2 separate regions of the Homo sapiens genome follow, and region 1 is linked to region 2. Evidence: fine-mapped expression QTL. Tissue or cell type: whole blood. Region 2 holds a variant in brackets; the other region holds the start of a gene. All regions are shown on one strand. Distances are from middle to middle.

What was found. PIP is the estimated chance that this variant, and not a neighbour inherited with it, causes the effect.
Region 1: it holds the start of TMEM144, and the variant in region 2 is the best candidate, but not a certain one, in a credible set for the expression of TMEM144 in whole blood (INTERVAL, PIP 0.83).

What each region holds. Positions count from the first base shown.
Region 1 is chr4:158,208,089-158,213,486 of GRCh38, forward strand. TMEM144 (transmembrane protein 144) reads left to right here and starts at 2,398. Exons shown (of 13, transcript NM_018342.5): 1 at 2,398-2,498; 2 at 3,365-3,486; 3 at 4,520-4,688. The coding sequence starts at 4,580. RefSeq lists enhancers at 1,786-2,340, 2,241-2,330.
Region 2 is chr4:157,952,748-157,958,145 of GRCh38, forward strand. The region is part of intron 2 of LOC105377509 (a long non-coding RNA gene); the gene reads right to left. Among named protein-coding and RNA genes, the nearest start is that of GASK1B-AS1, 220 kb to the right of the region's middle. The variant G/GA (reference allele first, on the strand shown) is at 2,400.

The sequences.
Region 1 (5,398 bases), 260 kb after region 2:
GTGTTCAAACTGTCTAGTTGCCTTTTCTCTAATTCAGATAAAGCTCTGGGGTAAAGTTTACCTTGAGGACAGGCTTTTGTTTCTGAGTATATTTCAAATAGTTATTGTTTTCCTCCCACATGCCAGAAAAAAGAGGAAACTTTTGTCCTGTCTTCTGAAAGTAAAACTCATTAATGTGTGGATGCTCCCATATGAATGACTCCCACTGTCTCTGAGTTTTCAACTCTCAAGTTAGTCCACACTCAGCCTTCAGCAATAGGCCAAATACTGTATAAATGCCCCCCTATCCTTTACTGGCTCCAGTGGCTTTTGCTGTCCTGATAAGCTGTAATTCTCCGTATTCACCTATTTCTTCAGTTTGCAAAGAGGTGGCATGTCCTATGACATCAATTCTCTGCAGATCTAAAAAGAGTAGTTGATTTTTGATTTGCTCATTTTTTTCTTGTTGTGATGATGGAAGTGGAGACTTTCACACCTTTCAAATGTCAGAGCAGAAACCAGAAGTCCTAGTAATAATGTTATATATATATATATATATATATATATATATATATATATATATATATATATATCTCTTTTGACCACATAAAAGGGGGAGGTGCACAGGTCTTATTATTATCATTTTACATATAAGAAAACTAAGGTTTAAAGAGATTAAATGAGTTTCCATGAGAAATATTGCTAACAGACGAAGCTAAAGTCAGAACCTGGATCTTCTAGTGTCTGCCAGGACTCTCCCAATACAGACCATTCTGTTTAGGCATTCATGTATACGAAACAATTTGAAAGAAAAATTTTAGTTTAAGAATAGAGTCATGCATGTTTGGATTTGCTCTGTGGCATAATGTAAAAGGCAATGGCCTAGCATATCCCTAATGAATCTTCTCAGGCCTAATTCAGCCCCCAACTCACTTTTAGACTTTAGAAATTCTCAGCAAATGCTGACACAAGCTTCAGTTTCTCCATGTGAGTGAAGCAAGAATAAACCACATGATCTTGTGACCATGAAGTGAAACAATTCTAGGTTGGATTTAGGCCCTATATTTTTGGAAGCAAGTTTGTGTATGTGTGTGTGTCTTAGGTGTGCATGTGTGGAAAGGGGAACTGATTTCTTCAAAATCTTTCTGAACTGCTAAATTAATCCTCTTCCTTAAGTGAAAAAGCTTTGCTGCTTTAATTCTTTAAATGAAATGTTATTTTGCCTTCCCATCTGCTCATCTGACATGATAGTCTATGGATGTGATTAATGTTTAAGGCAGAACTTCCTTCTAGGAAATGTCATATTTTAACAGTCCTTGTGTTTTCTCCTTCCTGTGAATGCTACACCCATTACCAACCACTGGATGGTCTCGGGTTAAATAGCACTTCCTCAGAGAAGGCTTCTTTGAACTCAGACTAGCACAGAACCTACACTTCCCCTTTCCAACTTAAAGTTTGCATCCTTTGGTGTATGCGAACCCACATGAAGAGATGTTTTTTTTGTTTTGTTTTTTTTTTGAGAGGACTCCCTCACTTTGGGAGGGCGAGGCGGGCGGATCACCTGAGGTCAGGAGATCGAGACCATCCTGGCTAACACGGTGAAACCCCGTCTCTACTAAAAATACAAAAAAATTAGCCAGGTGTGGTGGTGGGTGCCTGTAGTCCCAGCTACTCAGGAGGCTGAGGCAGGAGAATCGCTTGAACCCAGGAGGCGGAGGTTGCAGGGAGCCGAGATTGCACCACTGCACTCCAGCTTGGACGAGAGCGAGACTCCGTCTTAAAAAAAAAAAATACAGATAAATGGCCTGTACAGATAAATGGCTTAGGTGCATCTACAAAGAATTAGTGATTACAAGTGAAATCTTGTAATGTCACAAGAAATGTTAATGACGTCAGTGGTGCAGATGAATTTCTTAATACCAAGTGGAAAAATTCACTTGAGATAATCTTTTACAATGGTGTGAAATTCCTCAGACTTTTGTTTTATCCATAAACTGCACAAATAATACCTCCCTCTGTGACACTTAGAGAGGGTGACATGCTGAGAGTTTCCTGAATAATCACCTCTTGAAATACACAAAACTCTTCTAGTTTCCTGGTTGACCGACCCAGGGCTTGACGACTCCTTTTGAGCCACCTGACAATTCAGTCCAGCACAGCAACTGAAGGAAGGCGTTCCCCAACCTGCTGTCCTATGAAGGCCTCTAGGTCACCGGTGCTAAAGCCCTCCTTTCTCCACCCTCCTTAAGTGGAGGTAAACGTCCCAGCAGGAAGTCAAGGCTGGATTGGCGCTCTTCGCGAGCACCCTGGGAACGGGAGTCTGGGTCACGGGTGCTAGAGCCCTCCCCTCTCCTCCCGGCCGGTGTATGGGAAATTGTCCCCGCAGAAAGTAAAGGCTGGCCAGGCCGCCCCCAGCACGTAGAGGGAATGAGTCAGGCTCCGGCTCCACACTGGCACGTAGTGGGCGGATCGCGCCGGCGCTGAGTAGGAAGGAGCTTCAGCCGCCAGCCCGGAACGCAGTGAGTACAGCCACTCAAAGGAAAGCCAAGTCGCTTTGCAGGGGAGCGTCTCATGATTTTTCAGAAACGTGCTCATGGTTAAAAAGAAAAATCAAGGCTCGGAATAAATACATTCAAGCACTGTTAATTTTAGCCCAAAGACAGGCGGTACTTGCCTGGAGATTTGGGAAAATCAACATGAAACTAAAAATGAAATTTTAGTTGGAGTGGAGCAAGCAGTATTGATCAGAACATACCAAATACGAATTTTTTCAAAGTCTGCGTAGAAGTTTAAATTACTAGGAAAAATGTAAAGGAGAAGTATTTACTAATAAATGAAACAAAAGTAATAAAATAAAAATGAATTAATATAGTTTGACAAAATATCAGCGAACGCTGAAAAGAAAACATTAAAATAATGTTTGAGACTTTTTAGGTTTTGTGCAGGAAGAATTGGGAAAAATGTGCTGGATGGAGTGATACTGCTTTTCTTTTCCACAAAAATTTCATTATTTTAGAGAGCGGTAGAGCCTTTTTAAAGACAGTAAGTTATTGCCAATTCACAATGAAATAAGATCACATGCTCTGAAATGTACAAGAGCTGCATGCAATAAACTTCATTTATCTATAGGTAATAACTGATTGATGTTTATTCAGTAGTCGAAATGCACCTCATGCACTCTAATTAGCACGTCAAATTAGTCTCTCCGTTTCAGAGGTGTAGGGCCTTTGTGGAGCCTTCTCAATAAAATAATTTGCCACTCTTGAAGGTTAGACATTCTCTTCTATCAATGTACACATAAAGGTTTTGTTTTGCTTTGCTTGTTGTGAATTAAAATGGGGAGAAAATGATGTGTTAGCTATCACCCAGTCATGTGTCTTTTTAGTCATAGGTTAGCTTTTCAAGACACTTCCTGCATCTCTGACCTGTTGCACCTCTGTTATCTTGGCACCTCTGTTATCTTAGCAGCAAGCACCTGCCTCAGCTGACCCTTGAGCCATAACCCATGTAAGTCACTGCAGGGCTGAACCTCTCTTTGAGCCTAACAGTAGAATAATAATTATTTTTATTGAATAGTGTTAATGTGTCAATGTTGAAATGTGCCTCAGTGTGTCTTCCTCAACCACATCCCTATAGAGGATGTTTTCTTAATAGCAATGTGTTTTTGTTTTAAGAAAGTCCACACAATTTCAAATACACATTTTCTTTACTAAAGTTTATTGACCAGTTTTGAAGTGATCCTTGTTTTCAGTTAAACTATCTTTAATAATGGTAAATAACATATTTTGTAGGTTGTTGTATATTTAATATTCTCTGCAAGAACACATAAGGAACAATACATGGACCTTTAAATATTTGTCATTGTGAAATAAAATAACAAGGAAAGGTGATTTCAGGTGTACTTTATTCAATACATATATACAAGAAGTTATTACTATAACATTAAATTTGCAGGAAAAAAGAAACCACTGGATTATTCTGCTTCTATTCCAGAGGGCTTATTCCAAAGGGCCAGTGTGCAAAATATGAATCCAAGATGGCATTGTGGAAAGACGCTGTACCTCCTGTGATAAAATTACTTTGGTGGTGCTTTTTTCTCATGTATCTCGGGAAACTAAAAATCTGAATTGTATTCAGTGGCCTTTTCCAAATGGTAACTTTATGAAAAAATGTCTAATTCTTGGTTATTTGTGGTTTTAGTCCTTTCTTCATAGAGAAGCTAAAGCTGTTAAATAAGCTTAGCAGCGTTATCCGCTAAAACTTTCTGCAGTGATGGAACCTACACAGGAGAATTTTTTTTGTAATGTACTAAAAATTTGTCTTCAGGGCTTGTTCTTTTTAAATTGTAGGCTAGTGATCAAAAATATTTGGTGATAGAATAAATTAACATGAAGTACAAACATTATATATAGTTGTGTAATATCCTATCTGCAAAAAGGAGTCTTAGCGTGCTTTTGAAAAATTCAATAAATATAATATGTTAATCACAATTTGGTCACAGATTCACGTCTCAATTGTTTCATTTTTTCTTTTATTTCAGAAGCTCCTGAAAAGTACATCAAGTCTAAAGTGAACCAGCTAACTCATTAAGACTGGAATCATGAGCAACAATGGAGCAGACCTAACCTTTGGTTACATCTCCTGTTTTGTAGCTATCCTTTTGTTTGGCTCAAATTTTGTGCCACTTAAAAAATTTGATACTGGTGATGGTAATTATTTTTCCTTGATTGTTAACGTTATATTATTTTTAAAAATGAAGTTCCTTTTTTGGTCTTTTAAAAGTATAGCTACAAAAATAAATCATGTTGATCTTGATACCTAGTGAATAGAGCTTAAAATTAGTCATTTGACAGTGCTCATACCAGTTTGTCTGAAAGTCAGAATAGGAGAACCATTAAGGTTGTTTCATGGTAAAGTTAGGGAGGGTACAGTCAGGAAATCTCTTGGGCCATTATATGAATGGAAGAAATTTATAGTCAGTTCTACTATAACACCTGTTTTGAAAACATGAATCTTCAACATGATTGATATATTAGAGAACAATGTAAGCATAACAGATTTTTGGCTTGCTTATGTGCAATTTTGTCCCTGAGAAACCTCTAGATAGGCACAGAAGACTGCACCTAGATGAATAAAGATGTGTGATAATACACATAATGCACGCAGACACACGTACAATCTTCAAATATCGACCAGCTCCCTTAGTTCATCACATGTGGTTATGATGTATTCCACCCAACCACATCTCCTGTCCCAACTCCTCACCCAATACCTTCACAGTAACTCGTAAGCTGCAACCCTTTGGATGCTCACTTCCAGGAGCAAACTTCTGGTGTTTTTCAATTAAAATGCCCTATTTATTACAGCATCATGTAATTAACCAGTTAACCAGTTAAAACTGTACTACTATTTTAATTAG
Region 2 (5,398 bases):
GCAGAAAATATTCAAAAAAAAGTTGCAATGTTACAGCAATCATTGAAAATAATCATTCAGATTATTCAATCCATTGAATATAACTAGATTGGAGATGTGTTTGCCTGCAATCATAGGAACAACACGTAGATCCAACGCACGCACACTCCAGGAGAATAATGCAAAGGTAAAAGTCAAATATAGTCCCACTCAAACAATAAAATTAGTTAAATGGAAAAATATTTCATGCTACTACAATTTTTATATTTAAATTTTAGCTAATTAAGTAAATCAGATATTCAATTCTTCAATCATAGCAGCCACATTTTAAGTGCTCAGTGGCCACATGTGTCTAGTGATTACCACAATGGACAATGTAGATATGAAGACCTTTCCATCATTACAGAAAGTTATTTTGGATAGTACTGGTCTGGAGTATAAAAAATATAGAAATGATAAATTATATAGGATTTGGGGGGAGTTGCAAAAACCGAACACCATGAATAATATAATTTCCATGGGAAAAATGTAACCCTCACACAACTTTTGTCCAAGACTGGAGGATTTCCTAGATTATCCATTTTAATATCATTTCTTGGTGTGATTACTTAATAGAATAGTAATATATATTTGCCTAGAAAACTTAAATAATGTTTTTGAGAGCTACCTGTTCTTTTTCACCATTTTTTATTTAACAACATAGGACCATTTTTTCATACCATTAAATATTAGTAACAATATTTGAAACAACCTATTAATTATCTTTGTTTACATTATCTAAAATAATCCACAAAAATAACTTCACAATATTTTCACTTTCAGAAAAACAATACCAGTTTTGATCATTTCTGTTTTCTTTCAAACTTACACTAAAACACCAATGAAAACCCTATGTATAACCTATCAATATTTCCAAAAAAGATCCAGTCATATAGGGAATTCAAGCAGCATAAAACAGGTAATAATTATATTTATCCACTGTACTACAAGTAGTAGATACCTAATAAGTTTCTGATGAACCTAACTGATCTCTTGCATTTAAAATAACATTTTAATAGGAACAGAAACTATATATTTTTGTAAAACTAGGTACTTAGCTAAATTGCCAGCTTATTTTTTGGACAAAAGTGGTAACTTTTAAGTTTTATCTAAGTTCCCTCCAAAAAGCATAATCATTTCCTATAATGTATAGAAATACATTTCATTTTTAGTGATATAAACATTATTTATTTCACTTTCTTGCTGTGTAGATCATATTGAAAGTAAAGTAGACAATTAAGGCAGGTATCAGTATCATTTGAAAACAAAAACAAATCATTTTATTTATATGTACATAAAATTGCAGTGAAAGAAGTTTTGAAATATTAGTGTTTAGTTCCATCACATATACCCTGTATCCAGATGAATGAACTGAACTAGGCAGAAGGACTTGTTTTGACTGAGTCATTCCTGTTAGACCAACCTACAGACAGATATGGAAATGTGAGCAAATAAAAACTCCCAGAGTCCTGCAATTTCATTTCTTGAATCGTGTTGAAATTTATGATTAAAATTGCTTCTCACTGTAAAATTTGAAAGAGGTGATGTATTAGTCTGCTCAGGTTTCCATAATAAAATACTACAGACTGGGAGGCTTAAACAATGGAAATTTATTTCTAACAATTCTGTAGACTAGAAAGTCCAAGATCAGCATGCCAGCATGGTTGGGTTCTGGTGAGGGCTTTCTTCCCGGCTTGTAGTCAGCTGCCTTCTTACTGTTTCTTCACGTGGCAGAGAGAGAAAGAGAGCAAGTGCCCTGGCATTTTTTCTTATGATGGCAGTAATCCTGTCATAGGGTACCATGCTCACGACCTCATCTAAGTCTAATTATCTTCTAAAGTCCCCATCTCCAAATATTGTCACGTAGGGAGTTCTGCTTCAACGTGTAAATTTTGAGGGTGAAGGACAACACAGTTTAGTCCATAACAAATAACCAAGCTGAACCAATGTAGTTTTATTCATGTTTGATAAACATGGGCTGTCTTCTCTGCAAGCATGTGTCTGTGACTAAAGAGCAGTCAATAACATGGGATAACCTGGATCGATGACTGGTTCACTTAATTAACAAGAATATTACTTTCTACTTCCAGCCATTCATACAAATATTTTATTTGTTTGAGTCATTTAGCACTAAGAATGATTAGATTCTAATTTCTAGAGTTATATCAAAATATATAAAGTAGTGTGTAGAGTAAATTGTTTACAACTTATGACCTTGTGCATTAACAAATGCCTAAATAGGTTTTTTTCTGCAGCTAAAAAATATGTAGAAACTATTAGAGGTCCAATGTTTGTAACTTTCCAAGATTAGATTTGATATGAATTATATTCATCTTGCTTGGAGGATTCTCCTTCCACACTAACTAGTATGAGTGGAAAAA[G/GA]AAAAAAAAAAGCTAGGTTAGTATTCTACCCACAGAAACTTCTACTTGGAAGATTAAATTTCTCAACATGACTGGTAAACTATTTTGAGCAGTGAACACTCGAAAGTCTTAATTTTCATTTTTACTTGATGGATTTATTTTCTCTTTGCTTTTAACCACATGTTGAGAAATAATTGTCATCACTAGAAATTATTGGGATCATCTCTTATGAGAAAAAGTTATAACATACAGAAAAATAATTTCCAAATACTTTTATTATAATTTATGTTAGGTTATTTTTTTTTATTTCCATAGGCTTTTGGGGAACAGGTGCTATCTGGTTACATAAGTAAGTTCTTTAGCGGTGATTTGTGAGATTTGCTGCACCCATCTCCTGAGCAGTATACACTGAACCCATTTTGTAGTCTTTTATCCCTCACTCCATTCCCACCCTTTCCTTATGAGTCCCCAAAGTCCATTGTGTCATTCTTCTGCCTTTGCATCCTCGTAGTTTATCTCTCACTTATGAGTGAGAACATATGATGTTTTGTTTTCCATTCCTGAGTTACTTCGCTTAGAATAATAGTCTCGAATCCCATCCAGGTTGCTGCAAATGCCATTAATTTATTCCGTTTTATGGCTGAGTAGCATTTCATCTATATACATGTGTGTGTGTATATATATATGTATATATATATATGTGTGTGTATATATGTGTGTGTATATATATGTATATGTATATATATGTGTGTATGTATATATATGTATATGTATATGTATATATGTGTGTATGTATATATATATGTATGTATATATATATGTATGTGTATATATATATATATATGTATGTGTATATATATATATATATATATATATATATATGTATGTATGTATGTATATATATATCACAGTTTCTTTATCCCCTCTTTGGTTAATGGGCATTTTGGTTGGTTTCATATTTTTGCAATTGCGAATTAACCTGCTACAAACATGCGTGAGCGTGTTTCTTTTTTGTGTAATGACTTCTTTTCCTCTGGATAGGTACTCAGTAGTGGGATTGCTGAATCAAATGGTAGTCCTACTTTTAGTGCTTTAAGGAATCTCCACACTGTTTTCCATTTTGGTTGTGATGATATGATTCCATGCATAGAAAACCTTAAAGACTCCTCCAAAAAGCTCCTAGAACTGATAAAATATTTCAGCAAAGTTTCGGTATGCAAAATGAATGTACACAAATCAGTAGCTCTCCTATACACCAACAGTGACCAAGCTGAGAATCAAATCAAGAACTCAACTCCTTTTACAATAGCTGCAAATAAAATAAAATAAAATATTTAGGAATATACCTAACCAAGGAGGAGAAAGATCTCTACAAGTAAAACTACAAAACACTGCTGAAAGAAATCATAGACGACACAAACAAATAGAAACATATCCCATGCTTCTGGATGGGTAGAATCAATATTGTGAAAATGACCATATTGCCAAAAGCAATCTACAAATTCAATGCAATTCCCATCAAAATACCATGATCATTCTTCACAGAACTAGAAAAAAAAATCCTAAAATTCATATGAAACCAAAAAAGAGACTGCGTAGCCAAAGCAAGACTAAGCAAAAAGAACAAATGTGGAGGCATCACATTACCTGATTTCAAACTATACTATAAGGCCACAGTCACCAAAACAGCATGGTACTGGTATAAAAATGGGCACATAGACCAATGGAACACAATAGAGAACACAGAAATAAACCTAAATACCCTAAATACTTACAGCCAACTGATCTTCAACATAGAAAACAAAAACATACATGGGGAAAGGACACCCTATTCAACAGATGGTGCTGGGATAATTGGCAAGCCACATGTAGAAGAATGAAACTGTATCCTCATCTCTTACCTCTTGCAAAAATCAACTCAAGATGGATACAGGACTTAAATCTAAGACCTGAAACTCTAAAAATTCTAGAAGATAACATCAGAAAAACCCTTCTAAACATTGGCTTCAGCAAGGATTTTATGACCAAGAACCCAAAAGCAAATGCAATAAAAACAAAGATAAATAGCTGGGACTTAAAGAGCTTTTGCATGGCAAAAGAACAGTCAACAACAGACAACCCACAGCTGGGAGAAAATCTTCTATACATCTGACAAAGGACAAAGAAAATCTATACATCTGACAAAGGACTAATATCCAGAATCTACAATGAACTCAAACAAATTAGCAAGAATAAAACAAATAATTCCATCGAAAAGTGGGCAGAAGACATGAACAGACAATTCTCAAAAGAAGATATACAAATGGCCAACAAACATATGAAAAAAATGCTCGACATCACTAATGATCGAGAAATGCAAATTAAAACCACAATGCAATACCACCTTACTCCTGCAAGAATGGCCATAATCAAAAAATCAAAAAATAATAGATGTTGTCATGGAAGCAGTGGAAAGGCAACACTTCTACACTGCTGGTGGGAATGCAAACTAGTACAGCCACTATGGAAATTTATGTTAGTTTTGATACCAGGACAAACCAACTTCCTTTTCTTTAAATTTTAGAATGATACAGACCTTTTAATGTCCAGTTCACTGACTTGTGTGTCTTATCACTGCTCTTTAAAAGTAAAATTCTACACACTACAGAGAAAGCAGTAAGTCAGGGCCCCACCTAATTCCAAAAATGATGCTTTGGAAAAGGACAAAAAGGTAATACGAAAAATCCCTTTATATTGAGAAATCTGGTGAGATACTTTTAAAAACTTTCACATGATATGGTTTTGGTAGTATATGATTTAGGCCTGCTTTTGAGTATGATATGAAATCAATCATGTAACTTCGGAAAATGTTAAAACTAAAATCACAGCAGATTTTAAAGAGCATACCCTTGTCAGAATAAATGATAAAAGTTGGCATATAAATTACTTTAGGAGTCAGCAAACAGGGTACATGGGCCAAATCCTCCCACTTTCTCTTTCTGCATGGCTCATGAGCTAAAAATGGATCTTGCATTTTTAAA